Regions from separate parts of the Homo sapiens genome. Here region 1 is linked to region 2. Evidence: fine-mapped expression QTL. A gene starts in region 2. The other region holds a variant in brackets. All regions are shown on one strand. Distances are between the middles of the regions.

Evidence for each region.
Region 1: its variant is fine-mapped to the expression of INTS11 in tibial artery (GTEx, PIP above 0.99). The same link has a PIP of 0.9 or more in sigmoid colon.

The regions. Positions count from the first base shown.
Region 1 is chr1:1,387,753-1,403,037 of GRCh38, reverse strand. It overlaps CCNL2 (cyclin L2), which reads left to right and starts at 3,703. Exons shown (of 11, transcript NM_030937.6): 1 at 3,703-4,019; 2 at 4,367-4,441; 3 at 4,696-4,805; 4 at 7,524-7,644; 5 at 9,578-9,642; 6 at 12,173-12,272; 7 at 12,475-12,579; 8 at 12,667-12,808; 9 at 14,973-15,084; 10 at 15,169-15,261. The coding sequence starts at 3,732. MRPL20 (mitochondrial ribosomal protein L20) reads left to right here. Exons shown (of 4, transcript NM_017971.4): 4 at 782-1,129. The coding sequence ends at 955. It overlaps MRPL20-AS1 (MRPL20 antisense RNA 1), which reads right to left and starts at 3,508. Exons shown (of 3, transcript NR_015434.1): 1 at 3,349-3,508; 2 at 2,735-2,880; 3 at 992-2,433. RefSeq lists enhancers at 2,222-2,765, 9,576-10,076 and silencers at 3,151-3,210, 3,501-3,740, 3,811-3,990. The variant C/G (reference allele first, on the strand shown) is at 3,943.
Region 2 is chr1:1,319,724-1,334,927 of GRCh38, reverse strand. INTS11 (integrator complex subunit 11) reads left to right here and starts at 10,268. Exons shown (of 17, transcript NM_017871.6): 1 at 10,268-10,347; 2 at 13,835-13,932; 3 at 14,399-14,472. The coding sequence starts at 10,320. It overlaps CPTP (ceramide-1-phosphate transfer protein), which reads right to left and starts at 10,126. Exons shown (of 3, transcript NM_001029885.2): 1 at 9,826-10,126; 2 at 7,896-8,092; 3 at 6,032-7,687. The coding sequence starts at 8,017. The coding sequence ends at 7,165. TAS1R3 (taste 1 receptor member 3) reads right to left here and starts at 3,648. Exons shown (of 6, transcript NM_152228.3): 1 at 3,392-3,648; 2 at 2,990-3,290; 3 at 2,122-2,904; 4 at 1,804-2,007; 5 at 1,549-1,669; 6 at 1-1,422. The coding sequence starts at 3,582. The coding sequence ends at 464. RefSeq lists silencers at 9,670-10,169, 10,350-10,479 and enhancers at 11,298-11,807, 12,571-13,079.

The sequences.
Region 1 (15,285 bases), 68 kb before region 2:
CCTGCCTCAGCCTCCTGAGTAGCTGAGACTACAGGTGACTACCACCATGCCCAGCTCATTTTTTTGTATTTTTGGTAGAGACAGGGTTTCACCGTGTTAGCCAGGATGGTCTTGATCTCCTGACCTGGTGATCCGCCTGCCTCAGCCTCCCAAAGTGCTCAGATTACAGGCATGAGCCACCGCGCCTGGCCTTGTGGTTTTTTTTCTTGTATTTTTTAGTACAGACAGGGTTTCTCCATGTTGGTCAGACTAGTCTCGAACTTCCGACCTCAGGTGACCTGCCTGCCTTGGCCTCCCAAAGTGCTGGGATTACAGGCGAGACACCGTGCCCTGCCTTGGTAGCTGAATTTAATGCTCAAAGAGACGGCCCCCCTTTTCTACTCCTTAAACTCTGGCATTGTTCACTAGCTTCTGAAATCCTCTGTGGTTCTTGCAGGCACTTCCAGGTTGGCTTAAAGGGTTACCCTAGGCCAGCAGTCAGCTCAGTCAGGGTGGTGACCAAGGACCCTGAACAAGGTGTTTGGTTCCCCGGGCCGACATCAGGACTGGAGTCCAGCCTCCCTGCAGATTCCACAGGTGCTTCCCTCACCCGTGTCCACATTTATCCTTCAGCATCCTGCCTGGAAGTCCTCTGCTGTGCCACCCAGATAGGATTCTCCTAGGCCTTCCCTCCCCCCAGGCGAGTGTGCAGCTGGGTTCTTCCTGAGCCAGCGCCGCAACCACGCGGAGCCGGAGTGTGTGTCTCACACTGACAGCAGGTTCTGATTCATTCTTTTTTCAGTGCCAGGTGGAGCTCAACAGGAAAGTCCTAGCGGATCTGGCCATCTACGAGCCAAAGACTTTCAAATCTTTGGCTGCCTTGGCCAGTAGGAGGCGACACGAAGGATTTGCTGCTGCCTTGGGGGATGGGAAGGAACCTGAAGGCATTTTTTCCAGAGTGGTGCAGTACCACTGAGGACTGTTGCTGTATTGATTAGGAAAAGAGACAGAGTAATTTGCAGTTTGTTTGATTTATACTTTTGTTTATCTACAACCCAATAACAGACATGAGGGATGGCCCTGTCTCTCTGGGACAGAGCCTCACAGATGATGTCCATGTTTTGTGTGAATGAAACTCAAACACTCTTCAGTTTTTAGAGTCATTTTCTGGTATCGAGCGACCACACCGAGGAGCACACCCTGCTTCCAAGGCTGCTGCCTTCTGCACACAGTGGGGGATCCCCACCCACCCTGGCTCCCCTCAAGGGCTGCGTGCACAGTGCCCGCTTTCCAGTTACCTGACCCACCCTGAGTCCCTATTCCATTTTGCTCGGGGCTGACCTCAGACATGCCCTGTGGCTCAGCTCTGCCACTACTCAGAACACCAGCCTCAGCTTCCCTATGTCCCCCAGATTCAGCAGCCCAGCAGGGATTGGGGGAAATGCTCCCACATCAGGTGGGTGGTGGCCTGGTCCCTGCAGACTGGACTGGCTTTTCAGCCATCTCCAGGAAGCAACACCTAGCAGACAACTGTCCCTTAACCCCAAGGGTGATGCACACTTCTCCCCTGGTCTTTCTGCCCCCCGATGCCCCTACATTTACACAGCAGTGCGCAGACCCTTGCCGCAACCTGCTTGTCTTGCTGACCCTGCTGTAGGAGCGCCTAAACTGAGTGCCCGTCTCCCCTCCAAAGGCAGCTGGCTTGAATCCTGTGGGAACGTGCCCTTCACCCTTTGCCAGCAGTTGCTGGGGAGTCTTTCCGGCCCCTTTCTCAGACTCACCACCTACCTCCAACCTGCGCAGAACAATCAGCGTCCTGACCACTTGCTAGAGATGGCTTCAGGCCGACCACTCCATCCTCACTGCAGGCCTTCATTCCTTCTGGCTTCCATCACTGCATGGCCCCCTAAGAGGTCCCCCTCCTGGCCCTTGTCACTGTGCCTCATGACAGCCACTACGCCCTAAGCCTTTGGAGGCCAGGGACAAAGTCTCGTTCACTGTCCTTTCCGCTGCATGAGTGCAGTGTCTGGCCAGGTGCACGGGGCACTCAGTGCCTGTCAGCCCTTGGTAAACAGTCCTGGACAACAGGGTCAAGGACAGAGCCCTGGGCGGCCACATTCGGTGCGTGCTCCTGTGTTGTGGCAAAGCTGCCTTTTCTGCGTTTCATGTCAGTGAAGGAAGACAGGGATGTGGCAGAGCCCTGCGGGTTGCTCCCATCACTCACTCGGTTTGTGCCATAGTCCTCCTGTTCCCAGGCGGTCCCAGGGCCTGCCCCTGATGGGCTGGAGGCACCACCAACCTCCCACTCCTCTGGCAGTCACAGCTCAGGGAATGGGCAAGCAGCACCAATGAGAAACCAGCTGTGTGGTGGGGTTTCCAGAGAAGAGGAAATTCCTTCTTTCCTGGAGAGCGTGCAGCTGTAACTCACAGACGAGACATCCCTGAGCTACCAGCCTGGGGAAAGAGGACATGAGTAAAGCTGTAACCATACCGTGTTACCCATAACAGGCGGTGAGGAGAGTGGGTTTTGGTTGGCACTGTTTGAGCTGCAGTATCAAGTCATGGCAGAGCTAGTGGACAGCTGACCTGGGGGTGGGGGTGAGGAGCAATGGTGGCTTCTGAATTTGAGCCCGTCTGAGCTGGGCAGTTACTGGCAGCTCAGTGTGTGAACCTGCAACCACTCAGGCCTCTGCTGCCCTTCCCTCTTCCTGCCTCACCGTTCCCTGCCCCACGCAGGCTTCCCCACCATCCTCACCCGTGGTCCTGTACTAGTCCTGGCAAAGGTTCCGGTAACTGCAGCAACAGATACCTCCTGCCCCTCCTGCACAGCTGTGGTCGATCGCAGGACAGCCGCAGGTGATGAAAAACCGTGAACCCAGGACGGGCAGGGCGTGAGACCGCCTGCGGGAGGATCAGCGATGTCAAGACGTTACAAACGCACGAACCCCCTCGCCGTCTCCCTGGCGTTTGTGAGGTCCTGTCCAAGCTCCTTCACACGTAGATCACCGGGCCTCGCTCCCCCGACTCCTTCCGTGGGCCTGAACCTTGAGGTACTTAGGCCTCCCCACGCTGGAGGGGCTCTGTAGGGACGTCGAGGCCACGTTTCCAGTCATCCCTCCACCCGTCTCTCCCCAGGGGCTGAGTGTTGAAGGCAAGACTTTGCAGGAGTCTGGCGTTAATACGCATCCCCAAAGTCTGGAGTCGATAAGGACTGAAGACACGACGCCGACGGCGGCCGGGGGACACCGGGCATGCGCGTCTCATCCAGGGGGAGGCCGAGCGGAGCCTCTGACCCTGCCCCGCGCCCAGGGTTCAGCAGTGGGGGTCGTCCCGCCCCAGATCCCACCGAGATGGCCCCCCTTGACCCACAGGCCTTTCGAGACGCGAGCTTCCGCGATCCGGGGTCTCTGTGCGAACGTGGGCATCTTGGAAGAGTCCCAGCCCCGCTCGGGGCGCACAGGCAGGCGCTCTCAGCACGGCACCCGCGCCTCCGCTAGGGACAGACATGCTTCCGGGTCGGCCGGCACCGCGGAGTCCCCTGGGTAACGAGCCCGCCCCACCCGCGCCAGGTTCCGGCGTCGGCGTTAGGCGCGTTGCTGACGGGCAGGTTATGTAGCCAATTGCGGCTAGGCGGCGTCGCGCTGGTCGCGGGCCGAACCAATGGCACGCGACGGGGCGGGGCGGTGGCGGCCGTGGAGCTTCGCGAGGAGCCGCCCTGAGGGAAGAAGCCGAAGGGGAGTCGGCGGCACAAAATGGCGGCGGCGGCGGCGGCGGCTGGTGCTGCAGGGTCGGCAGCTCCCGCGGCAGCGGCCGGCGCCCCGGGATCTGGGGGCGCACCCTCAGGGTCGCAGGGGGTGCTGATCGGGGACAGGCTGTACTCCGGGGTGCTCATCACCTTGGAGAACTGCCTCCTGCCTGACGACAAGCTCCGTTTCACGCCGTCCATGTCGAGCGGCCTCGACA[C/G]CGACACAGAGACCGACCTCCGCGTGGTGGGCTGCGAGCTCATCCAGGCGGCCGGTATCCTGCTCCGCCTGCCGCAGGTGAGGGCGCGGCCGCGAGCCTCCGGCCCAGGTAACCGCTGGGGCGGCAGCCGCCTTTGTTGGCGGCGAGTCGGGCCCGCACCGCCCCCGCCTAGACCCCGACCCCAGCCCCTGCCCCGACCCCAGCCTCGGCGCCATTCCCTAGCCAGCCCATGCCCCTGACCCGGGGCCTCCCCGCCCGCCAGTGCGCTGGATCCCGAGACGGCGGGACGCGAAGAGCCTTTGTGGACGTGGGAAGCGTTTCAGTGTTTGGTTCTGCGTGGGGAGTCCCACGTTACTCGATGACTTTCGGCCGCGAAGGCTTTGAATGGTGCGTTTGAAAATACGGAAACTTTCTTCTACTCTAGGTGGCCATGGCTACCGGGCAGGTGTTGTTCCAGCGGTTCTTTTATACCAAGTCCTTCGTGAAGCACTCCATGGAGGTAAGGCTTCCTCCTGCACTTCATTCCCAGCGAAGTATGTTGAGGGTAAAACGGTTTGTTACTTTGCCCGGTTACTAAGGGAGTGAGTACTTGCCCCCCAGTCTGAGCTCTGTGCCGGAGGGTTCTGTTTCTTGACTTTTTTTTTCCCCTGGGTGCACCTCCCTTTTGGTCTGAATAGCCCTCAAGCCTTTGGCGGCCGTCAGGACGCCGTGGCTGGGGACAAACATGGGCGTGTTGCAATGCTTCCGCTTCAGCATGTGTCAATGGCCTGTGTCCACCTGGCTTCCAAGATAGAAGAGGCCCCAAGACGCATACGGGACGTCATCAATGTGTTTCACCGCCTTCGACAGCTGAGAGACAAAAAGTGAGTCAGTCAGAGCTGTCTAGTCTATCATAGATGCCTATTTTCTTTATTTCTGATTAAGTTACAGTAAGGCTTGTATAACACAATACAGGCCTGAGGCTCTAAACCTGTGGGATATTCATGAGCGCAGTCTCAAGCTCCACCAACAGAGCCTGCTCAGAGGCATCAGTAGATGCGGTTTAGTAAGGGCAGGGGCTCCAGTGAGGACAGTGCGCTGTGGCGGGTCGCGCTGGGGCTGGCTTCCTGCTTTACCCATGTCAGTGCACGGCCCTGCTGCTGCTTCTGTCCCACAAGTTTCTGAGTGCTCTGGAGCAGGGAATCTTAATCTCAGCACTATTGACATTCAGGCTGGATAATCTTTTTTTTCCTCCTGAGACAGGTTTCCTGTTGTCCAGGGCAGAGTGCGGTGGTATGATCATGGCTCACTACAGCCTCAACCTCCTAGGCTCAAGAGTTTCTCCTGCCTCAGCCTCCTGAGTAGCTGGGACTATAGGAGCACGCCAACCATGCCAGCTAATTTTTATTTTTTATTTGGTAAAGATGGGGTCATGCTGTGTTGCCCAGGCTGGTCTCAAATTCCTGGGCTCCAAGGATTTGCTGGCCTTAGCCTCCCAAAGCACTGGGATTACAGATTTCAGCCACCGCATCTGGCTGGGTAATCTTTAGTTGTAGGGGATTCTCCTGTGTGCTGCAGGATTCAGCAACATCCCTGGTCTCGACTCACTGGATGACAGGAGTACCCCACCTTAGATGTGACAGCCAGAAATTCTCTCATACCAGATGTGGGAGCTCACACCTGTCATCTCAGCACTTGGGAGACTGAAAAAGGAGGTTTGCTTGAGGCCAGGAGATTGAGGCTGCAGTGAGCTGTGATGTCACCACTGCACTCCAGCCTGGACAACAGGGTGAGGCCCTGTTTCCAAAAAAAACGAAAGTCTGTTGATGTTGCTTCATGGCCCTGGAATAGTAAAATTTCTCCAGCAGAGAACCGCTGCCTCTGACCTTAGCCCAGGGTTTATGCACCTGAAGTTAATTGAAGTCCTTTAGAAAACACAGCCTCTGGCCGGGCTGGCCTGTAATCCCAGCACGTTGGGAGGCCTAGGCAGGTGGATCACCTAAGGTCAGGAGTTCGAGACCAGCCTAACCAATATGGTGAAACCCTGTCCCTATTAAGAACACAAAAATTGGCCAGGTGCAGTGGCTCACGCCTGTAATCCCAGCACTTTGGGAGGCCGAGGCGGGTGGATCACGAGGTCAGGAGATCGAGACCATCCTGGCTAACACGGTGAAACCCCGTCTACTAAAAATACAAAAAAGTTAGCCAGGCGTGGTGGCGGGTGCCTGTGGTCCCAGCTACTTGGGAGGCTGAGGCAGGAGAATGGCGTGAACCCGGGAGGTGGAGCTTGCAGTGAGCTGAGATCGGGCCACTGCACTCCAGCCTGGGCGACAGAGCAAGACTCCGTCTCAAAAAAAAATAAAAAAAAAATTAGCCGGGTGTGGTTGCGGGTGCCTGTAATCCCAGCTATTCGGGAGGGTGAGGCAGGAGAATCGCTGGAACCGGGGAGTTAGAGGTGCAGTGAGCTGAGATTGTGCCATTGCACTCCAGCCTGGGCAACAAAAGTGAAACTCTGTCTCAAAAAAAAAAAAAAAAAAAAAAAAAACAGCCTTGCCGAGCGCAGTGGCTCACGCCTATAGTCCCAGCACTTTGGGAGGCCAAGGCGGGTGGATCATCTGAGGTCGGGAGTTCGAGACCAGCCTGACCAACATGTAGAAACCCCATCTCTACTACAAATATAAAATTAGCTGGTCGTGGTGGTGCATGCCTGTAATACCAGCTACTTGGGAGGCTGAGGCAGGAGAATTGCTTGAACCTGGGAGGTGGAGGTTATAGTGAGCCAAGAGCGCGCCACTGCACTCCAGCCTGGGCAACAGAGTGAGACTCCATCTCAAAAAAAGAAAAAACATGGCCTCATCGGCCTCCCAAAGTGCTGGGGTTACAGGTGTGAGCCACTGCACCCAGCCCTTTTTTTTTTTTTTTTTTTCTGAGACGGACTCTCACTGTGTCTCACCGTGTCACCCAGGCTGGAGTGCAGTGATGCGATCTCGGCTCACTGAAACCTCCGCCTCCTGGGTTCAAGTGAATCTCCTGCCTCAGCCTCCTGAGTAGCTGGGATTACAAGCACCCGCCACCACGCCCGGCTAATTTTTGCATTTTTTTAGTAGAGACAGGGTTTCACCATGTTGGTCAGACTGGTCTTGAACTCCTGAGCTCAGGCAGTCTGCCTGCCTCGCCTCCCAAAGTGCTGGGATTACAGGCAGAGCCACTGCACCTGGCCCATCTGTATTTAAATAATTGTGCTTTCATTGGTTCTGTGGTTATTGAACTGTGAATATGTACCTTCCTATCGTGAGTCACATAAAGTGCTTTAGCATTTGTGCCACGAGATCCTAAAACTTGCTATGTTCGGTCTATGCTTGTGCACCAGAAGCTGTTGATCTATAAGGAAAAGCAGGGAGGGATCGTTGGGAAGGGATGAGGAGGTTGGCACTGGGCTGTGGGGAGCGGTGTGCAGTTTTGTTCATCAGAGGATGTGGACTTCATAGCGATGTTGTGTTGTGGGGTTTGTGTTAGGTGCTCATAGTTGGAGGTAACGACGGGATCTCAGAAGCCTTGCTCTGCTTGACTGTGGTGCAGACCCTGTGCTCTCTCTCTGGCAGGAAGCCCGTGCCTCTACTACTGGATCAAGATTATGTTAATTTAAAGAACCAAATTATAAAGGCGGAAAGACGAGTTCTCAAAGAGTTGGGTTTCTGCGTCCATGTGAAGCATCCTCATAAGGTGGGTGTGCGGCTCCTGCCCTGCGAGCCCGCCTAGGCCGCTGCTCCTGCCTGGCCGCCTCTCTCCACCTCAGTGCAGTTGAAGGCTCTGAAGAGGACTGAGTGCATCCCTGACTTGGCTTTCCAGTTTCTATTTATAATCTCAAGAATAGTTCCTGACGTATTCGTCTTCTAGTGTCAGCTGTTTATTTTAGTAACACATTTTTAAGTGTTTTGGAAATGGTATTATTTAAGTTTGGGCTTTCAAAAATAGTGGTGAGTTTATAAATGTTGAATTTTAGTTTATGTTTTCCTTTCTCTACAGTTAATTTTTTTTTGTTTTCTTTTTTTTTGAGATGGAGTTTCGCTCTATCGCCAGGCTGGAGTGCAGTGGCATGGTGGCAGTGGCAGTGGAGGCACAACCTCCACCTCCCGGCTTCAAGCCATTCTCCTGCCTCAGCCTCCTGAGTAGCTGGCACTACAGGCACGTGCCACCACGCCGAGCTGATTTTTGTATTTTTAGTAGAGACGGGGTTTCACCATGTTGGCCAGAATGGTCTTCATCTCTTGCCCTCGTGATCCTCCCACCTTGGCCTCCCAAAGTGCTGGGATTACAGGCATAAGCCACTGTGCCTGGCCTTTTTTTTTTTTTTTTTTTTTTTTCTTGAGACGGAGTCTTACTCTGTCATGCAGGCTGGAGTGCAGTGGTGCAATCTTGGCTCACTGCAACCTCTGCCTCCCAGGTTCAAGTGATTCTTGTGCCTCAGCCTCCCAAGTAGCTGGGATTACAGGCATGCGCCACCACACCTGGGTAATTTTTGTATCTTTAGTAGAGATGGGGTTTCGTCATGTTGGCCGGGCTGGTCTCAAACTCCTGATCTCAGGTGATGCACCTGCCTCGGCCTCCCAAAGTTCTGGGATTACAAGTGTGAGCCACTGCACCCAGCCTCAACAGTTAATTTTCTACATTTGCTTTAGTGATAGCTTTACTTTCTCTTATGGAGAAATTAGGGGAATTCTGGCCCCTTTAGTCTGAAATGACTGGCGAGTTTTGCGGCATGTACTGACTGAGGACCATGGCCGTGACACGGTCCCTCACTCCCAGCGTTGTGGGTGCCTTCTGTGTCACATGGAAACAAAGCACTTGTTTTCCCAAAAAATTGTTTCCATCTTTGGTTCCATCTCCTTTTTATTGGTGGGTTTCCTCATCTGCTTGTTCGGCTTTCTGCCATCTGTTCAAATTATCCACAAATTGCCCACCACAGATTGAAGTGCTTTTTTTTTTTTTTTGGAGACGGAATCTCGCTCTGTTGTCCAGGCTGGAGTGCAATGGCGCAACCTCAGCTCATGCAGCCTCCGCCTCCTGGTTTCAAGCGATTCTCCTGCCTCAGCCTCCTGAGTACCTGGGATTACAGGCGTGCACCACCATGCCTGACTAATTTTGTATTTTTAGTAGAGACTGGGTTTCTCCATATTGGTCAGGCTGTTCTCGAACTCCTGACCTCAGGTGATCTGCCCGCCTCAGCCTCCCAAAGTGCTGGGATTATAGGCATGAGCCAGTGTGCCTGGCCTGAAGTGTTCTTCTCTGTTTGCTGAAAGTATGTTCATATTGTGTTTTGGTGAGTTGTTAACTGGGATACAGAGACGTGTAGGACAGGCCAACCTCACTGGTGGAAAGGCATTGAAGACTAGAATGAAACCAGCCCCATGAAGAACGAGGCCTGTGCCGTGGGTTGTGTGGCTGGGCTCACGGGCATGCGTCCTGCCTGGCTGCCAAGGCAGACAGCAGGTGCAATCGCAAAGCTCCCTCCAGCTGAGCCGTCCGCCAGACGTGTGGCCAGGAGCCACTCCTGGGATCTAGCTTGAGGCTCTTGTTTGCTGCATGGACACCCACAAGATCTGAATTCTGGGCTCTTAAGGTTCTTGGTAATAACTGCCTGACCCGTATCTTCCAGATAATCGTTATGTACCTTCAGGTGTTAGAGTGTGAGCGTAACCAACACCTGGTCCAGACCTCATGGTGAGTTGAGCTTCCTTGTTTTATGAGACCAGCAAGGGCAGTGCAGGAATGTGTTGACTTGAGGCACTTGGGCAGTGGGTAGGCAGCCCAGTGACTTGGTTGTGGGCTGGAGTTGTCCGAGTGCCCAGTGCTCCTGCTGTATAAATTCCAATCAGACTCCCAAAATGGGCACTGGCAGTCACGGTAGGTGGCCCGTCCCCTCCCTGCAAGCCTGGACTTCCTGTGTCCCCCACCCTGAAGAGAGCAGTCAGTGGGCTTCCTCTGGGAGCTGTTGACTTGGCGCAGGGGGACCTTTTCCTGGGGAGGGTGGAGGGACAGGCTAGTGCAGACTTGGTCTGTTTCTCCACTGACATTGCATCCCATGGGAGAGGGGCAGAGAAGGTTCTGGGGCCGATTTTAGCAATGCATGTGCTAGAAAGGAACCCTAAAGTGCAATGTAGTATTTGGGGGATTCTGGGGATTCTGGTGAATTTTTTCCCATGGAGTTAAGTCTGTAAGGGTCATATTTTTGCTGACTGAATTGTCTGGTGCTATGACATGTTTAATAGAGAACCTATTTTGACTTTTCTTTTCTGTACTCTTTCAATCAAAGGGTAGCCTCTGAGGGTAAGTGACTAAGACTTCTCCTCTGCTGTCCAAGCGCTTTGGTGCAGGGACAGCGGCATCTTCAGCCAATCCAGTGCAGGCTCTCCACCGAAGGCTGGCTCTAGACTGGTGGTACGCACATAGCATAGCCATGGCCGACTCCTGCTGTGGTTCTCTGACGATTGTGCTTCTTGTTAATCCTCTGTCGTGCTTTGGTAATCGTATTGATTAGAGTTGGTAACTGTCTTGACTTGAATTTTGTCCCTTTAAAACTGCTGTACCTGTATGATAAAGATGCAGTACCTTTCTCTTAAAAAAAAATGCTATGGAAAGCTGTGAGAATTGAAGAGACAAATTGGCTGTGTCAGTGTGGGGTTATGTCATGATTTCTAGAAGCCCTGAAGTTGCTCTTTTGAGCAGCTTTGCATGACACGCTCTGGTAAAAGGTGTGCATCTTTAAATTATTTCATGGATACTTTGAAAAATATTGTATCACTTCAAATACAGCAATAAGTTTATATGTTCTCAAGATTTCATTTGTTTTTAAGAATTTTAAGTTCGTGGATTAATATCACTACTTGAATACTGACAGTTGTTGATTAGACACCGAAAGGTTACTGATTGTTGAATGTATCTGTGTTAGAGCTGTGCACTGGCACGCTTGCATCAGGGGCTGGGGCCACACGGCCGCCACACAGATTCCCCCGTGATGCCTGGAGCTGCTTCCAGAGCCGGGTGTCTCCAAGAGGCACCTGTAGGACTTCCCATTTAGAAATCTCTTGAGTGGGTTTGTATGTTACCTTCTCCAAGGTTTATTTAGGACAGAGATATTGCTGGAAGGTCATGGGTCAGATTCCCTCACAACCCACCTCGTCTGCGGGTGCAGCCCCACTCCAAGGCTCCCCGTTATTGGGGTATGTGAGGAGCAGTAAATATAAAACCAGTTCAACTGTCCTCATGGAATCACCCTTTCTGTTTTTGCAGTATTCATAAAGCTAGTGTAAGGTCTGGTTTTAGTCTATTAAATCTTAGAGATCTAAAGGAAATGCTCAAAATGTAGCCAGGTTTTAAATGCTTTAACTTTTAAAAAATGTAAATTTTTGTATGTTTATAGCTTCTAAATATGAAAGTTAAAGAATGTACTGTGATGAAATGTTCAGTATTATGTTGCTTCTCAGTATCATGTTGCTTCTCAGTATTGTGTTGCTTCTGATTCTATGAATGTTCATTTTAAGACCCCTTGTTGAAATGGGACAGTTGGCAGCGGCTCTGATGAGCCCGAGAAGAGGCCTGCCCTTGGGTGCGGAGTCTCCCTCCGCACGATGCTCCCACGCGTCCAACTTGCACCCAAGGGGCTTTTCCCTCTTCCAAGTGGACTCCTTCAAGGAAGCTGCAGCTCGGTCAGCAGAGAAGGGGCCTGCCGCCAGCGCCCTGGAGGAAGAGGAAGAGGAACCCAAGAGGATGGCTTGTCTCCCAGCAGCCACACCGGCTTTGTGCTCAGCCAGTTCATTTGAGTTTGCATGTTTCTCTGCACTATGGATTTTGAGCATTTAGATTTCTTTAATCAAAAGCGTTTTAGTGACTCCAGTAGACATTTTCTTTCTGAGGCATCGTGCTTTGCATGAGAGCAGGCCAAGGTTGAGGGGAAAAGTAAAGTTAAAGTCGGTTCTCTTTCATAGCAACACGTATTGTCTGACATTCAGCCAGCTTTTTTTTTTTCTAATAATTTCTGTGCCTTTCTGTCCTGTATTTACTGTATTTAGAAAAAGCAGCTAGAATATTTCTCCATTAACTCTTGAGATTCACAGGACTGTCTAGCTCTGAGTCCTAGCAATAGACTCCTTAGAGGAGTAGTACGTTTATCTAGATTTTCTCTAGATAATGCAGGCGGAAGACCTGGGTTCCCGGGTGGGGCATTGCAGTTCTTCCTGTGTTTGGCTTCCAGGAATTACATGAACGACAGCCTTCGCACCGACGTCTTCGTGCGGTTCCAGCCAGAGAGCATCGCCTGTGCCTGCATTTATCTTGCTGCCCGGACGCTGGAGGTCAGTGTGTTGCTACTATGGAGAGATTCTAGTCTGATTTTTTTTTCTCCAGCCTCCAGTAAACTTTACTGTGTTATTCTTCAAATTACTCTAATCTGGGCCAAAGCATTTTCGTGACCAACAGGCTGTTTTTTAATTGTCCTGAGTCTTGCTGGCCGTGAAGTTGAGGAAAGTGTAATGATGATAGTGTTTGTTTTTACAGATCCCTTTGCCCAATCGTCCCCATTGGTTTCTTTTGTTTGGAGCAACTGAAGAAGAAATTCAGGAAATCTGCTTAAAGATCTTGCAGCTTTATGCTCGGAAAAAGGTTCTTCGGCATTTTTTCATGTAACGTATGCGTTTGTGTTTGGCCAGAAACACCTGGTTCTGAACGGACACCTTCTGGCTTTTGCAGGTTGATCTCACACACCTGGAGGGTGAAGTGGAAAAAAGAAAGCACGCTATCGAAGAGGCAAAGGCCCAAGCCCGGGGCCTGTTGCCTGGGGGCACACAGGTGCTGGATGGTACCTCGGGGTTCTCTCCTGCCCCCAAGCTGGGTGAGTCTGTTAGAGTGCAGGAATCCACTCCCCACAAAGGCAAAGACTGGTGACTCTCCCCCGCCTCCATTCTGGGGTATGTGCTCCTTCCAGACATTTTTTTTTTTTTTTTTTTTGAGACAGGGTCTCTGTCACCCAGGCTGGAGTATGGTGGTGTGATCGCAGCTCACTGCAGCTTCCAACTCCTGGATTCAAGTGATCCTCCCACCTCAGCTTTCTGCATAGCTAGGACTACAGGCACATGCCACCATGCTTGGCTAATTCTTTTTGTTTGAGACAGAGTCTTGCTCCAGCCCAGGCTGGAGTGCAGTGGCGCAATTTCCTCTCACTGCAAGCTCCGCCTCCTGAGTTCACACCATTCTCCTGCCTCAGCCTCCTGAGTAGCTGGGACTGCAGGTGGCCGCCACCACGCCTGGCTAATTTTTTGAATTTTTAGTAGAGACGGGGTTTCACCAGGTTAGCCAGGATGGTCTCGATCTCCTGACCTCGTGATCTGCCCACCTCAGCCTCCCAAAGTGCTGGGATTACAGGCGTGAGCCACCGTGCCCAGCTGTGCTTAGCTAATTCTTTATCTTTTTAGTTGAGTCTGGGTCTTGCTATGTTGGCCGGGCTGCTCTTGAATTTCCTGGCCTCAAGTGATTGTCCTGCCTCAGCGTCCCAGAGTGCTAGGAGCATAGGCACCTGGCCTTTCTGTTGATTAGCAGGGAGTATGACAGGTTGTCTGAAATGCTTTTGTTTATCCTGCTGCCCAGGTAGCTTGTCATCTGATGAAGGTGTTATAGTGTGGGGCCATAGATGATACACGTCATCAGACCTAGAGTTCAGTGTGATGCAAAGGGCCTGTCTGCAGTTCTTTTTTTTGAGATGGAGTCTCGCTCTGTCGTCCAGGCTGGAGTGCAGTGGTGCGATCTCAGCTCATTGCAAGCTCCACCTCCCGGGTTCATGCCATTCTCCTGCCTCAGCCTCCTGAGTAGCTGGGACTACAGGTGGCCGCCACCACGCCTGGCTAATTTTTTGTATTTTTAGTAGATATGGTGTTTCACCGTGTTAGCCAGGATGGTCTCAATCTGGCTTCGTGATCCACCCGCCTCGGCCTCCCAAAGTGCTGGGATTACAGGCATGAGCCACTGCACCCGGCCTGCATTTCTTTTTTTGAGACAGAGTTTCTGTCTTGTTACCCAGGCTGGAGTGCAATGGCGCTGTCTCAGCTCACTGTAACCTCTGCCTCCCGGGTTCAAGCGATTCTCCTGCCTCAGCCTCCCAAGTAGCTGGGATTGCAGGTACCCGCCACCACACTGAGCTAATTTTGTATTTTTAGTAGAGATGGGGTTTCTCCATTTTGGTCAGACTGGTCTTGAACTCCTGATCTCAGTTGATCTGCCCGCCTTGGCCTCCCAAAGTGCTGGGATTACAGGTGGGAGCCACTATACCCAGCTTTTTTTTTTTTTTTTTTTTTTCTGAGACGGAGTCTTACTCTGTTGCCCAGCCTGGAGTGCAGTGGCGCTATCTGGGATCACTGCAAGCTCCGCCTACCAGATTCTGGTGATTCTTGTGCCTCAGCCTCCCAAGTAGCTGGGATTGCAGGCGCCCACCACCACGCTCAGGTAATTTGTGTGTGAGTGTGTGTCTATGTATATATATATATAGAGAGAGAGAGAGAGAGACACACACTCACATGTTTTGGGGTTTTTTTGTTTTGTTTTGTTTTTCTTGAGACAGAGTCTCGCTGTGTTGCCAGGTGAGTACTGTGGCGTGATCTCGGCTCACTGTAACCTCCGCCTCCTGGGTCCAAGCGATTCTTCTGCTTCAGCCTCTGGAGTAGCTGGGACTACAGGCGCGTGCCACCAAGCCCAGCTAATTTTTGTAGTTTTAGTAGAGATGGGGTTTCACCATGTTGGGCAGGATGGTCTCAATGTATTGACTTTGTGATCCGCCCTCCTCGGCCTCCCGAAGTGCTGGGCTCACAGGCGTGAGCCCCCGCGTCCAGCCCCATCTGCATTTCTGTGATGTCTGTGTAAGTTCTGGGTCCCAGCTGGGAGCCGGAAGTTACAGTCTGCTTGCGTCGCTGTTTGACCTGTAGAGGGGCCTTATCTCGCTCTACGAACTTGTTTCTTATTGGGAGAGTGTTTTGTGGTTGGCTTTTAACCTCTTGTTCTGATTCTAGTGGAATCCCCCAAAGAAGGTAAAGGGAGCAAGCCTTCCCCACTGTCTGTGAAGAACACCAAGAGGAGGCTGGAGGGCGCCAAGAAAGCCAAGGCGGACAGCCCCGTGAACGGGTAGGACCCCAGGGCTGCCCAGGTGGCTGTCAGGGTTGGCTGGAGGGACTTCTGCTTTGTAACTGGCTCCTGTCCTGTTCACAGCTTGCCAAAGGGGCGAGAGAGTCGGAGTCGGAGCCGGAGCCGTGAGCAGAGCTACTCGAGGTCCCCATCCCGATCAGCGTCTCCTAAGAGGAGGTGTGTGCCTCAGGGCGCACCCAG
Region 2 (15,204 bases):
GGCATATGCCTGTGTGCCCCCACCTGGCCTCCCACTGCTGTGGTGCCTGGCAGGGTGCAGGATGGGGGCCCTGGTGGGACATGGTCAGGTCGGCAGGGCCTGATTTGGGCTTCCAGCCATCTGGCCGGGGCCTCCCTGCGTCCTTTTCCTGAGCTCACGGTGTGGGTTGCGGGTACCCTGGGAGCCCTCCGGGCCTCTTTCCAGAACAGTGGGTCTGGGTTACCTGGGCAGGCCTGGTCTGGGCACAGAGGGACAGGGACACAGCTTGGCTCTGGGGCCCAGATGGTCACAGGGGTGTCCACGTGCTCCAGGCCTAGGGCTCACTGTGGGGTCAGGGTCAGGAGACAACCTGGGGTCAGAACCTAGAGCGGGAGGGTCTCTGTAGCGAGACACGGGTCATTGCTGGCTTGGGGGGGATCGCAGCTAAGTCTGGGTTCACCGGGGCTGAGATCACAGGGTTGGGTCACTCATGTTTCCCCTGATTTCCTGTGTTCCCGTCATTCTGGCCTTGGGCATCCCCAGGGCCCCCTCCCAGGAAGAACTCGGGGGTGTTGAGCCCTGGCTGCCGCATGAGCAGGTAACACCTGGGCAGGTGGAAGGCAGCCAGGATGCCCAGGACACAGAGCAGGAGGGCGCCCATCTGCACGGCGGGCCTGAGGACCACCTGCACATTGGCCAGGAGGGGCACAAAGGAGACCCAGGTGATGAAGTAGGCCAGCATGGCAAAGGTGAGGCCACGGGCACGGTTGTAGCAGCCCGGCTGGCTCCGCACCAGGAAAGTGCCCAGGAAGCAGAGAAAGGCCAGCGTGGCATTGGTGGCGTGCGCTAGGCCGAAGCTGACCCAGGAGCGTGTGCGGCAGTGCACCAGCGCCTCCGTGGGCAGCATGTGCCAGTCCGTCACCACCTCCGGCGGGAAGGCCACCAGGTACCAGGTGCACAGTGCGACCTCCACCAGCATGGCCAGCAGCACCACCAGCCAGGCCCAGGGCCCCCGCAGGCAGCCACTCAGCCGGTCTGCCCAGCTCAGAGGCAGTTCTGACTCCACGAAGATCTCGGCCGCCTGCAGGAAGAGTGTGCTCAGGCAGCCCGTGAGCGGGAGGTGGGACAAGGGCTGCTGGGCCAGGCATCGGGCAGGGCTGGGCTGGCCAGGGAACAGGAGGACGCTGAGGCAGACCAGGCCCAGGCACACCAGGCCAAAGCAGGCCAGGGGCCCCCCCGAGGCCTGAACCAGTGGGCTGTCCCGATGGTGAACGAACAGCCCCAAAGCAGCCAGCACAAGGCCCAGCGCCAGGCTCAGCAGCAGGAGCAGCAGCAGCACAGCCGGCTCGCCCCATGCCAGGAACCGAGACCTGCGGCGGAAGCAGCGTGTGCTTCGCTCCGGGGACCACTCATCCTGGCCACAAAAGGTGCAGGCGATGTCGTCTGTGAGAGAGGAGAAGGGCGCTGGGTGTTCGTCTTGTACCCTGTGGGCTCTGGTCTCAGAGTCAGGACTTGGCAGGACCCTCCCCTGCTGCGTTCCCACCCCCGCCTGCCGGGAAGGCGGCTCACCTGGGTTTTGCCGGTAGCTGCCCGCCTCGCAGTCCACACAGTCGTAGCAGCAGGAGTGGAACCCCTTGACCCGGCGCACCTGGCCCTCCTGGCACTGCCGCGAGCACCGGGACACGGGCTTCTGCGCACAGGCCTGGGGTCTGGCTCTGCTCGGCTGGGCATGCCCACGGGAGACTGGAACGGCCCCCACCCCCAGGCTGCGCCCTGCCGCGGGGGCTACCACGGGCACGCCTGGCACACCCACCCTCACCTCACCTGGTTGTCAGACGTGTGCCAGCGGATCTTCAGGCGCTCTGTCCTGAGGCTGCCGTTGAACCTGCCCACGTCGTGGAGCCTGGGCACTGAGCCCTGCCACACCCACAGCTTCAGGTCGTACTCCATGTCCACGTTTCCGCTGCTGTCGAACCGCAGCGGCAGCCCGCCCACGTGGAAGGTCAGGTTGTACATGTTCTCCAGGAGCTGCGGGCGGGGGACGGGGCTGAGCCGCCAGCCACCTCCAGCTCAGGCGTGGTGGCCGTGCCTGGTGGCCTGGGCACATGCAGAGGACAGCACACCCCCATCTCCCGGGCTCACCTGCCAGGGCTTCACGGGGTCCTGCGCGGGGCAGCCTGAGGCGTTGCACTGAAGAGTGTTGTGCAGGGCCTGGGCCACGCTATACACAGCTGCGTAGACAGAGAACGTCTGGTGGTGATTTAGCCCTGCGCTCACGTTCTGCAGCGTGATGCAGTCACACTGCGGGCAGCGCTGGCCCACCACGTCCTCCTCCAGACCCTGCTCCCTCTCGCCCAGGGCAGAGCAGAAGGCCGGGTCGGTGGCCAGGGCCAGGTGCGTCTTCACGTACTGGGGGAACTCGTGCAGCTGGGCACCCCTCTGGAGGAAGCCAAGCACCGTGCCCATCTGGGCCATGCCGGGCAGCCCCATGACCAGGTCAGAGGTCAGCCAGGCCTCGCTGGCCACCCACACCTTGGGCGAGAGCCTGCTGCTGATGCTGTAGTTGAAGAGGGCGTGGGCGGCGTGCACGGAGGCGAACAGCAGCACCACCTGCACGCTGCTCTGGTTCACCTGGTGCAGGACGTCCTGCACCTTCCCCAGCCGCGAGTCATCGGCACGGGGCAGCGGCACCAGGCCCTCGTGCGCGATGCAGATGCCGCGTGCCGCGGCCAGGGCCGAGAAGATGCTCAGGCCCTGCCGGCCGTACTCGTCGTCGCTGCCCAGGGCGGCCACCCAGTTCCAGCCGAACTCCTGCAGCAGCTCCGCGGCGGCCGTCAGCTGCACACGGTCGCTGGGCACGGTGCGGAAGAAGGAGGGGAAGGTCTCCCGGGCGCTCAGCAGCTCCATGCTAGCACCGTAGCTGACCTGCAAGGGCCAAGAGGCATCTCCTGACACAGGGGCTCCCACGGGCAGGGCTGGGTGGGGGTGGGTGATGGTGGGGGGCGCCCACCTGGGGCATGAGGAAGAAGCTGAAGAACTTGCCGGTGACCATGGCGAGCTCTGACGAGTGGGGCCCGATGACAGCCAGCACACGGGGCTGGTACTGCGTGTAGTTGCAGTAGGCGGCGATGTCGCGGCTGCCTGCCTTGGCCAGGAACATGAGGCTGGGCTTCATGGCCACCACAGGCTCCGAGCACGTATCAAAGAGGTCGTAGCCCAGGCGCAGCCCGGGCAGCAGATCCGACTTGTTGTTGATCTCCTCCACGGCCATTTTCATGGCCAGTGCCCAGAGCAGGCCGTTTGAGGAGAACCTGGGGCCACACAGAACCGCAGATGGCCACCTCGGCCCCAGCTCAGGAGCACCCCAGACCTGGTCACCCTGACCCCGACCCAGGCCGTCCCACCTCTGTACCTGGTGCACACAGGGCTGCTGGGCCGTGTCCGGCTGCGGAGGCCAGCCTCCTCGGCCTCGCCCAGGGGGAACAGCCCCCCCAGCACGTAGTCCCCCTTCATCCTAAGTTGCTGTGACAGGCACAATGGGGCCCCCGTCCCAGGGTGCAGGAGAGCCCAGAGGCTGAGGCCCAGGACAGCAGGGCCCAGCATGGCAGAGGCAACTTCCAACAGGCACGGCAGGTGGCTGCCCCGACTGGGGCCTCACATGGAGTGAGCCCGGGGCGGGGAGCGGGCAGAGGATTTGTTTAGCAAAACCCTTGCCATCCTCACTTGCCACACCCTGGGGCCCCAGTGGTGTCCTCGCTTCCTGGGCCTGAAAGTTTGTGCGCGTCAGACTCTGCCTGAGGCCACTGCCAGGCTCTATGGCCAGCGTTGACCGGCAGGCAGGCTCTGCTCAGTTGCTGGCCGTGGCCTTGTTCCCTGCCTGTGGCTGAGCCCCTTGCCACCCCCCGATTCCTGGAGTTGCCCAGCAGGCTGTGGAGAGGAGAGGGGGCAAAGGGGCCTCCAGGGCTCTGAGGTCTCAGCTGCGTGGGAGGGATGCAGAGACACCCAGCCCTGGGGCTTTTCATAAGCACAGAAATGCCTCCTACCCAGCCCCGGGAGCTTCTGGCTCCCACTCAAGGCTGTGCTGGCCGGAGCCGGGGGCAGCAGGGATGGGCCCCCTAGGCCTGCAGACCAGTCAGGCCAGTGGGCAGCCGGCCAGCCAGGCCTCCACCCTGCAGCTGGGGAGGGCCCTGGGGTGGTGGTGCTGCCCTCCCAGTCTGCTTGGGAGCAGAGTTCCTTGAGGGTCTCAGCCCTTCTGCCAGAGTCTGACGCCTGGAAGCTGTAGGAACCGCATGGCCAGCTGTACTCACACTGCTGACCCCCGTCTGGGCCACTCCTGCGTGGCAGGCACACAGGTGGCTCCTGCTGGGGGTAGAGTTTGTTTGCCAGGGGGGCACGCAAACAAGGGAGGAAGGGCCACAGGCAAATGAGCGGCAGCTGGAGCAGCACCAGGTGTGCAGGGCCGGGACTCCTCTGCCTCTGTGTTGCTTTGGGGGTGCCCTCGGGGACACAGCAGACTCCAGGCGCAGGCCCTCCCAGGGGAACTGGGGGGCACTCAGCTTCAGCTAGGGCCTGGCAGACCTAGCAGATACCAGGAGGTGTGCCCTGGCTGGTGCTTCTTCCCCATGGTGTTGTGAGGAGGACCTGTGAGGGACACACACTACCACCGCACATGCATATGGCACATGCTGAGCACACGTGAATATGGCGCACATGCGAACCTGGCACACGAGCACAGGAATGCGGCACACACACAAACGGCACATGCGCATGGTACACGCGAATGGCACATGCACGGCACACGTGCATGGGACACGCACGGCACACGCAAGGAACACATGCATGGCATGCAAACGGCACACATGCATGCCACACGTGCACAGCATACATGCAAATGGCACACGTGTACGGTGCACACGAATGGCACATGCGCATGGTACACACAAATGGCACACGCACGGCAAGTGCATGGCACACGCGCATGGCACACACAAAACGGCACATGCAAATGGCACACACACGGCACACACAATACACACGGAAACGGCACATACACAAATGCCACACATGCATGGCACGCAAGCAAACGACGTGTGGCACACGCGCATCGCACGCAAATGGCACGTGCATGACACAAATGGCACATGCAAACAGCACACACATGGTACACGCAAAGCACATGGCACGCACATGCGCACAGCATACGCTCACAGCACACACGGCATACACAAATGGCACACATGCACGTGGCACACGTGCACGGCCAACACGCAGCACATACGTGCATGGCACATACACGAAAACAGCACACGCTCACGGCCAACACGCATGGCACATGCAACTGGCACCTGCACATTGCACAGATGGCACACATGCACATGGTACATGCAAACAGCACATGCAAACGGCACACGTGCGGCACACGCAAATAGCACACTCGCACTTGGGACACGCAAACGGCACAAGCATGGCACTTGTACAGAAGGCAACACCCGGAGGGAGCCCTGCCCTGGGGCCCACGCAGACCCAGGCAGTTCTCCCGGCCCATACTGCAGTCGGCAGCCTTTGCCGGCACCATATGCAGCTCCCACAGACCCTGAGGTGGGGGTGACATCCAGGAAGACTCTGCTGAATTGCATCCCCTTTCTGTCCAGGCCACTGTTGTGGCTGGGAGTGGCCCCCACCTCCACGCACACATCCCACGCAGGCCTCTCCTCTTTTGCATGGAGAGGCGGATGTCTGCCCTCCCAACCGTCCTCCCAACCCAGCCTCTTGGTTCTGGGTGACTCTGTCTCTCTCTTGTCTCACCTGTACAACAGGCATAGTGATGGGACCTCTCTGGGAGAATGGGCACACAGCAGCCCTGCCTCCAAGGCTGGCCTTTTCTCAGGGTGTTTGTTGAGCCCTGGGGCTAACACAGCCCCCTGAGCCTGGCAGTGGGGCCTCAGCTCCCTTGGAGTTAGGTGCACCCACCTCAGCTGTGTCCCTGGGGTGAGGGCCCTCCCCACCCTCACTGGGTGCCCCTGTGTCCCCCTGCAGGAAATCAGGCACCCAGTGCACCCCAGCGTCTCCCTCCTGGGAGGCTGTGTGATTTATTAACGTTGGAAGACATCACATAGATTGCACTCTGGAAGCTCGCATGTCTGCTGGGCCGTGGGGGCCGTCCCTCTGCCACCCCGAGGTGCTGGGGTCCACTGTGAAGAGCCAGTGGCCAGGCCCCAGGCACTGGATGGTGGCTGGGCTGGTTGTGGCTGTCTGGTAGCCTTTGGCTGGGCCACAGGGTCCAGACCCTCCTGTTCCGTGCCCCACGGGTCTCCTGAGCACTGTGGGGAGGGGGCATCAAGGGGCACGGGGGAGAAGGGACACAGCATTTCACTGGGTGTAGCAGAGTCCCAGCTCCTGGGGGCCTTGGGCTGGGCTGGGCTGTGCAGACCCACGGCCGCTGCGGGAGGCGGCCTGCTGCGTCCCTCGGGGAACTGGTGCCGTGCAGGGGCTACGGAGGAGGCTGTCCCAAGGGCGGGGACTTCCTGGGCCCTTCTGTGAGGAGCCTTGGTCTCAGCTTCCGGCTGTCCTGCCCCCAGTCTGCCTGGCACGCTGAGGGGCAAACAAGGCAGGAGAGGCGGGGAGAGCCCCACAGTGCCCAGACTGCTGTTGAGGGTTTCTGCCAGCCAGGGCATGGAGGGCACTGAGTCCCCTGGGCTCAAGGCTGCCCACCTGGGCAGACACGGGGTCCCAGGCACGGGCCTGAGATGAGGACACATCGGCTGGCAGAAAGGAGAAAGGATGGAGCCTCCACACCCCGGGACCTGTGACTTCACCCTGGTTCGCAGATGCACCCCACAGGCTAGGGGGTGGCGACCTTTCGGGCTCTTGCAGGCCCGGCCCCCACCCCTGCCTGCTCTGCTCTGCACCGCACCCTGGCGAGGCCTGGCTGCGCACGCGTGTAATAGGCCGAGGGGGAGCCGTGGCCGAGGCGTCTTGTTCCGGACCGAGAGGGTGGGCCTCTTCTGGGCTGGTCGCCACCTTCTCTGTCACAGTCTGTGGTTCCTAACCAGCTCAGCTCACAGGGGCGACAGAGGATCTCCTGTTCCCGCAGCGCCCAGAAGGCTCTGCCACGGGACTCACGGCCCTGGCCACCGCAGCCCAGATCTGCAGCAGGAAAGCCGGTGCGGCCCTGGCTTCCCGCCCCTAGGGCAGGTCCAGCAGGGAGTGCTCGGCGTAGAGCTTCTGGGAGACGTTGTAGACACGCTGGATGAAGGGGAGGGCCTCGCCTAGCATCTGCACGGCCTGCTCCGGGGGCCCCACGTTCATGGCCTCCAGGAAGACCTCGCGTGTGGGCAGCGTGCAGAAGGCCACGGTGACGGCGCGGCGCACGACCCAGGGGTGGTAGGCGGCCAGCGAGGCGTTGTAGGAGTCGGCGCAGAGCGCGGAGGTGCGTGCGTCCTCGGGGCTGGTACGCAGGCCCTCCAGGAACAGCTGCAGCCAGTGCAGGGCGCGGTGCAGGCGCAGCACCGTCCGGCAGCCAGACTCCGGGTGGTGGGAGCGGCGCTCCAGGTCCACCAGCCGGTTGCTCAGCTCGTGGGCCACCATGGCCTGCAGGCTGCGGTAGTGCTCGCTCTGCGGGCCGCCCCTGAGGCGCTCCATGATCCGCAGCTTGGAGACCACGTCCTTGGAGATGAATGAGAAGATGGTGCCCAGGCTGTTCAGAAACCTGTGGAAGGGAGCGGGGCTCGAGTCCTCGCCCAGGCCTGGGGCAGCCCGCCTGGGGTGCAGGGGACGCTGCCCAGCCTGCGGGGGCTCACACCCATCTGGAAACGGGCAGCAAAGCTGGTGGGGACAGGCAGTCGGGAGGCAGATGCCACATATGGGACTCGGGCCAGGGGAGCGCCCACCTCAGGAGGCAGCCCTGGCACACGCACCTGACCAGGCCCTTCCAGCTGGCAATGTAGGGGTCCAGCAAGACCTCTTCCTTCTCATCGAGACACTGCTTGAAACTGACCAGGACGACTTTCAGATTGAAACCTGTCTCCGAGTCATCCATTTTTTGATAGGAACGGAAATACAGTAGGGCTGGGGGGCTGTGTCGCTGGGGTCAGCTTGCTCTGTGGCTCATTTTCTGTGTGTGGAGGGGAACAAAATAGCTGCGATCCCATTGCCGCTCACTGAACACTCATGCCCCTCATGGAGCTTCCTCCCAGGAGCTGCCTGGCTCTGCTCCCAGCCAAGCCGCAGGCTCTCAGGCACACCACCCTGACCCACCCTTCATCAGGATTGCGCATTCAGGGACCTTGGCACAGCCCCTCCTGTGGATCAGGCCACTGACTCCGTGTCAGTCCCTGACCCCGAGAGTGGCCCCCTCTGGCTTTATCAGACCACTAGGCCCCGCTGTCTGCAGCAGGTGTCTCTGCTGGTGCTTTCTTGTTTTTGTTTCTCTCTCTAGATGCTGTATCTGCTTTTACCAGCTGGAGAAATACTAAGCCCCTGCCGAGAGCCAAGCACCATCCTAGCCATCTATCTGGGTGCATGGGGAGTGCGAGCAGCCATCTGGGGTGGGGTCAGATGACAACAAAGACAGGAAGTTCTGAAGTCCTAGACAAGAAAACAGACACAGCAGAAAGCAGAGACAGGTGGGGCCGGGGGTGGGGGGATGCTGCCGGGCAGGCTGCCCCATCTTCCTCACTGCTACATCCCCAAAAGCAGAAAAGAGGCTGTAGGGCTGGCACTTGCTGGATGGATGGACACGTGTTTTCACTCCTGTTGCTGAAACTCCATGTCCCACACAGATGGGTTTTACCACTCAGAAGATTGCCACGAGGCTCTTGTACTAGCCCTAGGGAGCCTTCCACGAGTGGCCCAGGCCCTGCTTTGGATTCTGCTGGCATTCACATAGTCACTCCACAGATCCACAGACATCCAGGCACCCATGCTTTGTGTGAGTGTTGCCAAGCACCCTTGCCCTGTCTCCCCGGGTGCCCCACGGGCCCGCACCTGCTCTGGGGAACCTGAGAGTCAGCTGCATTCCACCTCGACCAGGAAGAGGGCCTGGGGGTTCCTAGGCCGGTTGGTGCTGGGAGCCCTGTCCTGGCCTCCCTGGCTGCAGGGACTCCATCGGTGGGGGAGGGGGAAGGGCACCCAGCCGTGGTGAGAGCTCCTGGCCAGGAGCAGGTGGGCAGGTTGCTCAGCACCCTAGGACTGGGCCCTTCATCACTAGGGATCATGGGCTGCAAGCCCTGCCCAGCCCGTGGCCCAGGCTGCTGGAGCACTGGTGCCTGCAGGGTGCTGAAGCCTGGCGTTGCAGGCCCCACAGGTTGGGTTGCATGCTTGGCACCAGGCGGAGGCCCCAGATGTGAGCTCACCGGGCTTCAGGTGTGGGGGATGGCTGCTCCTGGGCCTCAGAAAGATGCAGTCCCATAGACTTCCAGCACGCCCCTCCCCTCCTCGGGCCTTAATTTTGTCCACTGAGAAGATGGTCTCTGAGGCTCTGGGGTTTCCTTCTTGGTCACCAGATATTCTGCGGGCCTTGCCTTCCTGCCCAGATTCGAGCCAGTGGCAAACAGAAGCTGCCAGGAGCTTCTCAGAGCTGTGGCTGGTGGCTCGGTAACAACAGGAAGGGCAGTGGCTGTGCAGGAGGCAGGCAGCTTGCCAGCCCAGGAAGGTGACCCAGGACACCTCCAGGCCTTTCCCAGGGCAGCCCAACGGCCCAAGGTCAGGGCCGGGCGCGAGGGCGGCCTGAGCACAGAGCACGGGGGCTGACAGCAGGCTGGGGGGCCAGCAGGAGACGGGGCCCCACGGCGCCCCAGGCCTTGTGGGTGGGACCAGACCCTGTCGAGCGAGCGCTACGAGTCTCACCTGGGAAGGGGGCTTCAGATGGCACCGGACTGGATGGGCACCGGTTCGGGTCCCTGCTCCACCGAGAGGCCCAGGAAGGGGCGGAGGCCCGGGGTGGTGTTGGGGAGGGGCCGACCTGAGCCACGGCTCCGTCCTGCGCGGGAGCCGGGTCCTCGGCCGCCCGCCCGCTCCGGCCCTCTAGGACGACGTCCCCTCCCGCTCCCGGCCCCTCGGCGACTTCCGGACCGTGCGGGTTGGGTTGGGCAGGTGCGGCCGCCGAGTCCGAGCCGCTCACCTAGGCCGTAGCCGCCGTGCGGGCCCCGTCCCCGCCCACCGCCCCGCCCTCGCCCCGCCCTCGCCCGCCGCCCTGATTGGTTGGATGCTGCCCAATCAGGAGGCCCGGCGCCCCGACCCGCGTTTCCGGCTAGCGCACCGGAAGTTGCAGCGAGGTGGTTGCGCCTGCGCAGTGCATCACCGCAGGCGGGCCTCGCGGGTCCGGGAGCGCGGCGGAGACGATGCCTGAGATCAGAGTCACGCCCTTGGGTGAGTGGGAGCCGCCGGGAGGGCTGTGGGGTGGGCTCCGTATGCGGCTCCGGGCGGGCTGGGCGCCCCGCTCCCTCCCGTTTCTCGTGGAGCCAGGTGCGCGCCGCGGGCGTCCTCCGGTCTCCTCCCCGCGCGGGCCCTGGTGGGAGCCGAGAGGCGGCCTAGTCCCTGCACCCCGGGCCTCCGGCAGTGACGCGAGAACGCGAGCCCCGAGGTTCAGGCGGCCGTGAGGGGACGTCGCAGATGGGGCCGCGGGGCCTTCGCGCTCGCTGTGCGCTTTCGTCGGTGCCTTGACCTCCCCGTGCCGCGCGCTGCCGCCTCCAGCCCTACCAGCCCTTCAGTCCCTTAGCCCCTCAGCCCCGCAGACCCTCAGCCCCCCAGCTCCCCAGCCTCTCAGCCTCCCAGCCCCTCAGCCCCCCAGCCCCTCAGCCCCCCAGCCCCCCAGCCCCTCAGCCCCGCAGACCCTCAGCCCCCCAGCTCCCCAGCCTCTCAGCCTCCCAGCCCCTCAGCCCCTCAGTCCCTCAGCCCCCCAGCCCCCCAGCGCTCCAGTCCCCCAGACCCTCAGCCCAGCAGACCCTCAGTCCCCCAGCCCCTCAGTCCCCCAGCCCCTCAGCCCAGCAGACCCCCAGACCCTCAGCCCCCCAGCCCCTCAGCCCCCCAGTCCCCCAGCCCCCAAGCCCCTTAACCCCGCAAGCCCCTCAGCCCCCCAGCCCCGCTTCTGCCTCCTCACGTCTTGCTTTCTGTCCACCACTCTGTGTGCTCACGCCCGAGTTACAATCAACTCTCACTTTAGCTCTTGTTCTACCTGATTTCTGCAACACTGAAAAAAATAGCAAAAAACGCAAATATGTACTCCTAAAAGTCCTGACAGTCTGGGCACTGTGGCTCACGCCTGCAATCACAGCACTTTGGAAGGCAGAGGTGGGAGGATCGCTTGAGCCCAGGAGTTCAAGACCAACCTAGCCAACATGGCAAGACCCCATCACTCCAAAAAAAAAAAATGCTAAAATTGGCAGGGCGTGGTGGTGTGTGCCTGTGGTTCAAGCTACTTGGGAGGCTGAGTTGTGAGGATTGCTTGAGCCCAGGAGGTTGAGGCTGCAGTGAGCCATGATTGTGCCACTGCACTCCAGCCTGGGTGACAGCAAAACCATGTCTCAAAAGAAAGTCAAAGTCGTAACAGTATAGAACGATGTGAAGAAGGAAAAAATTAGTCAAAATCCAGGGTCTCAGAAACAGCTGGAGGGACATGGTGTTGGTGGCCAGTCATCCTGATGTCCTTAGCGTTTTCCACAGGTGCCTGCCCTGTGCTGTCCTGGAACCTGGTCCTTCCACCGGGCAGGGGGTCGAGGGCACCTTCCAGCACAGACACCAGGACGGGATTCCATGTCCTCCCCCATGGCGTGAGCGCTTCCTCGGAGGGTGCCCCCCGCCCCGGTGTGGACACTGTGCTGTGAACACCCCTGGCCTGTGCACACCCCATGGCATTTTGCAGCTGTTTGCATGGGCCCCACTGCCCTCCCCTGCTCTCTGGGTCCTCCGTGGGGTCCTCCCAGCCTGCCCCTTTCCCATTTGGCCTCTTGGCTGCCTGTTCTGCCCACTCTCTGGACATCTGATCTTTCTGATCTTTCATGTGGCTTCAATTACCCGCAATCTGTACCTGGGTATATTCTCAAGGTCACCTCAGCCAAGGTATCATCAAAGCCGAAGTCCTGTTTCACCGCTTCCCTGCACCAGGGACTGCCTCGGGCTCCGTGTCCGCGCTCACTGGACCACTGCTGTGTCCTTGGGGTCACTCCCACGCCTTGGCCTGTGTGTGGCTACCCCCCCCGCCGCCGGTCCCCCTACCCACCCTGCCCATCCCTCCCCACCGCCGGTCCCCCCACCCACCCTGCCCGTCCCTCCCCCTGCTGGTCCCTTCCCTCCCCCCTGCCTGTCCCTCCCTGCTGCCTGTCCTCCCTCCGCCCGCCCCGCTTCTTCTCCTCCCCTGGACCATCCCTTCCCCACCCCGTCCCTCCCCCTCCCCCACCCTACCCCTCCCCTCCCCTGCTCAAAAGTTGGCTTCTCGGAGCAGTCTCCTGTCATGGTTCTGGAAGTTTTGAGGCTTCCTCATTCTCTCACCTTGCTCTTTTCTGTCATAGTAACCTTCGTCTGGCGTGCTTTGGGTGTCTTGTTTGTCTGCCGTCTGTCTCCTTGCTGACAGGGATATCTCCTCCTGTCTTCTGAGCCCTGTCCCCTCGTGTATCTCCAGGCTCTATTCCCGCACCTTTCCACTTTCCTTCCTGGGATCACTGTGGGTCCTGTCGGGAGGCGGGACTGCCAGTACTTCAGGACTGGGCTTTGGAATTCAGAAAACCAGCCCGGGCCCCATGCCTCGGGGCCGTGTGCCACAAGTGCCTCTGTGGCCTTAGGTCCCTGGGCATGAAGAGGGGCGGCCCTCCCTTCCCACAGGTGCCAGAGGGCCTCTGTGAGCCTGGCGTGGCTTGGGGTAGGAGATGCAGAGGGAGGAGACAGCTGAGACCCTGCTCTCAGAGAGCTCACACCCAGCGGGGGCAGGAACAGGCCTGGAAGAGAACCTGAGATCCCCTCTCTGTGGCAGGCAGCCCCTCGGCTGTGGCCCCGTCATCCTGATGTGTGGTGCTGGCTTTGGACACTTCGAGTGGCTGGCAGGGGGAGGTGGGTGGGATTCAAGGGGAAAACTGTTCACTGCCATCAGACTCCTGCCCAGGCACAGTCTGTGCAGGGGCCGTGACCCTTTCCTCTCGGGCCCCCAGGCCACATGAGGGGGCTGAGTGTGCCTTGGCTGGCCAAGGCCTCTGGCTGGAGCAGCTGGGCAGGGCTGCTTGGCTGTCAGGAGTGTGGGAGGGCTGCAGATGAGGGTCTGTGTTGGGGGCTGCATGGTGTGCAGTGGTGTGAGGCTCGTGTTGCCACGCTGGCCACTGCTGGACCACTGGCACCGTGTTCGCTATGGCATGGCTGAGGCTGTGTGGCGCCCCTCCACAGCCGCACCACCAGAGAACACCCAGTGCCAGCACTTAGTCACTTACTGCCTTGCCTGCCTGGGGAAAGATCCTGGAGAAGGTGGCCTCATTGGTTTGCAGCTCTGCTGGGGGTCCAGCCACAGCCCAGGAGTGACTCTGACCGAGGTGTTGGCCCCACAGACCAGCCGTTGTCTCTGTTGGAGGCTGAGGGCCACAGCACAGTGCCCACTACTTAGCCAGCAGGCCGTGGCCACCTTAAGAGGCCAGGGGAAGCTGGCGGGGGAGGGCGTGTGGGCTGCCAGCCTCCACCCTGGACATGATGGTGTGGGGCATGGTCCCCTGTGTCCCCCTTCCTGTGAGTAGGGGTGGCCCTGCTTCTTGGCCCATGTGTCTGTCCACACAGCAGACTTGGTCCGGTTTCCTCAGTGCACTGGGGTCCTGCAGAGCTTGGGGAGGCAGCACAGGGGGCGGGGGGCGCAGCAGTGACTCATCTGCCCTCCCTCGAGTAGGGGCCGGCCAGGACGTGGGCCGAAGCTGCATCCTGGTCTCCATTGCGGGCAAGAATGTCATGCTGGACTGTGGAATGCACATGGGCTTCAATGACGACGTGAGTCCCTTGGGCAGGAGGCCCAGAGGCTGGGAGAGCCGGCCATCCACAGCTGGACCCTGGGCCTCAGAGCCGGGACAGTGGGGTGGTGGGCAGCAGTGGTTGTGCTTGGATGGCTGCACCCTGTGGGGAGCAGGGATGGGTGGGCCTGGCCGAGGTGAGCCCCTGCATGGTGGGGTCCCCCTGTGCTGGCGCTGAGCCCCAGCCCCGGGGTCCTGTAGGCTGGACTCCGTGAGACCCTGGGCTCAGCTTCCAGCTCACATCTGTCAGTGAGGTTGGGGGTAACCTCGGCCCCTCCGGATGCTGTGAGCAGCCAGGGGTCCTGGTGCCACCTGCGGGATGGGAGTGCCCAGCCTGAGTCTGCACATAGAACCCCCCTTCCTGGGGGCCCCTCCCTGGGGCATGGGTGGCCCCAGATGCTGCCTGGAGACCACTGTGCAACCTGAAACCCCCACATCCTTCCTAGCGACGCTTCCCTGACTTCTCCTACATCACCCAGAACGGCCGCCTAACAGACTTCCTGGACTGTGTGATCATTAGGTGGGTTCCTGTTGGGGGCCTTGAGGGTCCCATGTCTGTGCCTGTGGGGCTTGGGCCACCTTGCTTGGTCTCGGCAGCGTTTGGCAAGGGGCCTGTGCCATCCTTGATCCTCAGGGGGCTTCTAGGCCCCAGGATCTGCTCCCTGCCTGCCTTACTGGTCACACACATGGCCTGGTCTCTGTCTGTTCTTCCGGCCCTGCCCTCTGAACCCTACTTTCTGAACCCGGCCCTCCAGGCTTCACCCTCTCTGATGCCTTCACTGTCTCAGGATCTTTAAACCCCACTGTCTTGTTGGCGATTCCAGAGTCCCGAGTCTGCCCTGACCCCAGCCTTTAGGGTTCAGCAGCTCATGACCCGCTGGTCTGGGTGGCCTCGTCTGGACGGCCACAGCACTCCTGCTGGCCCCCTGCCCTTCCCTGCCCTGTCCTCCCCAGCAGCCAGGCCCGTGAAGCCTGGAGAAGCCCCTTCTCCTCTCCGGAGGCAGTGTCCTCAGCTGCCCCTGAGCCCCTCGTGGTTGTGGTTTCTTCTCAGACACGGTGGGGTCCCCAGTGCCTTCCTGGGGCTTGCCAGGCGCTGCCCTTGCCCTCAGGTCTGTGCCACCTTCACCTGCAGCTCCACTCAGCCTGTCCTGACTGCCTGAAAAGCCAGCGGCTCCCCTATGCGCGGTTCCCTCAGCAGCTTTGCATTGTCTCGCGAGCATGTCGCCGTCACCGACGTGTTCAATTTCCCGTT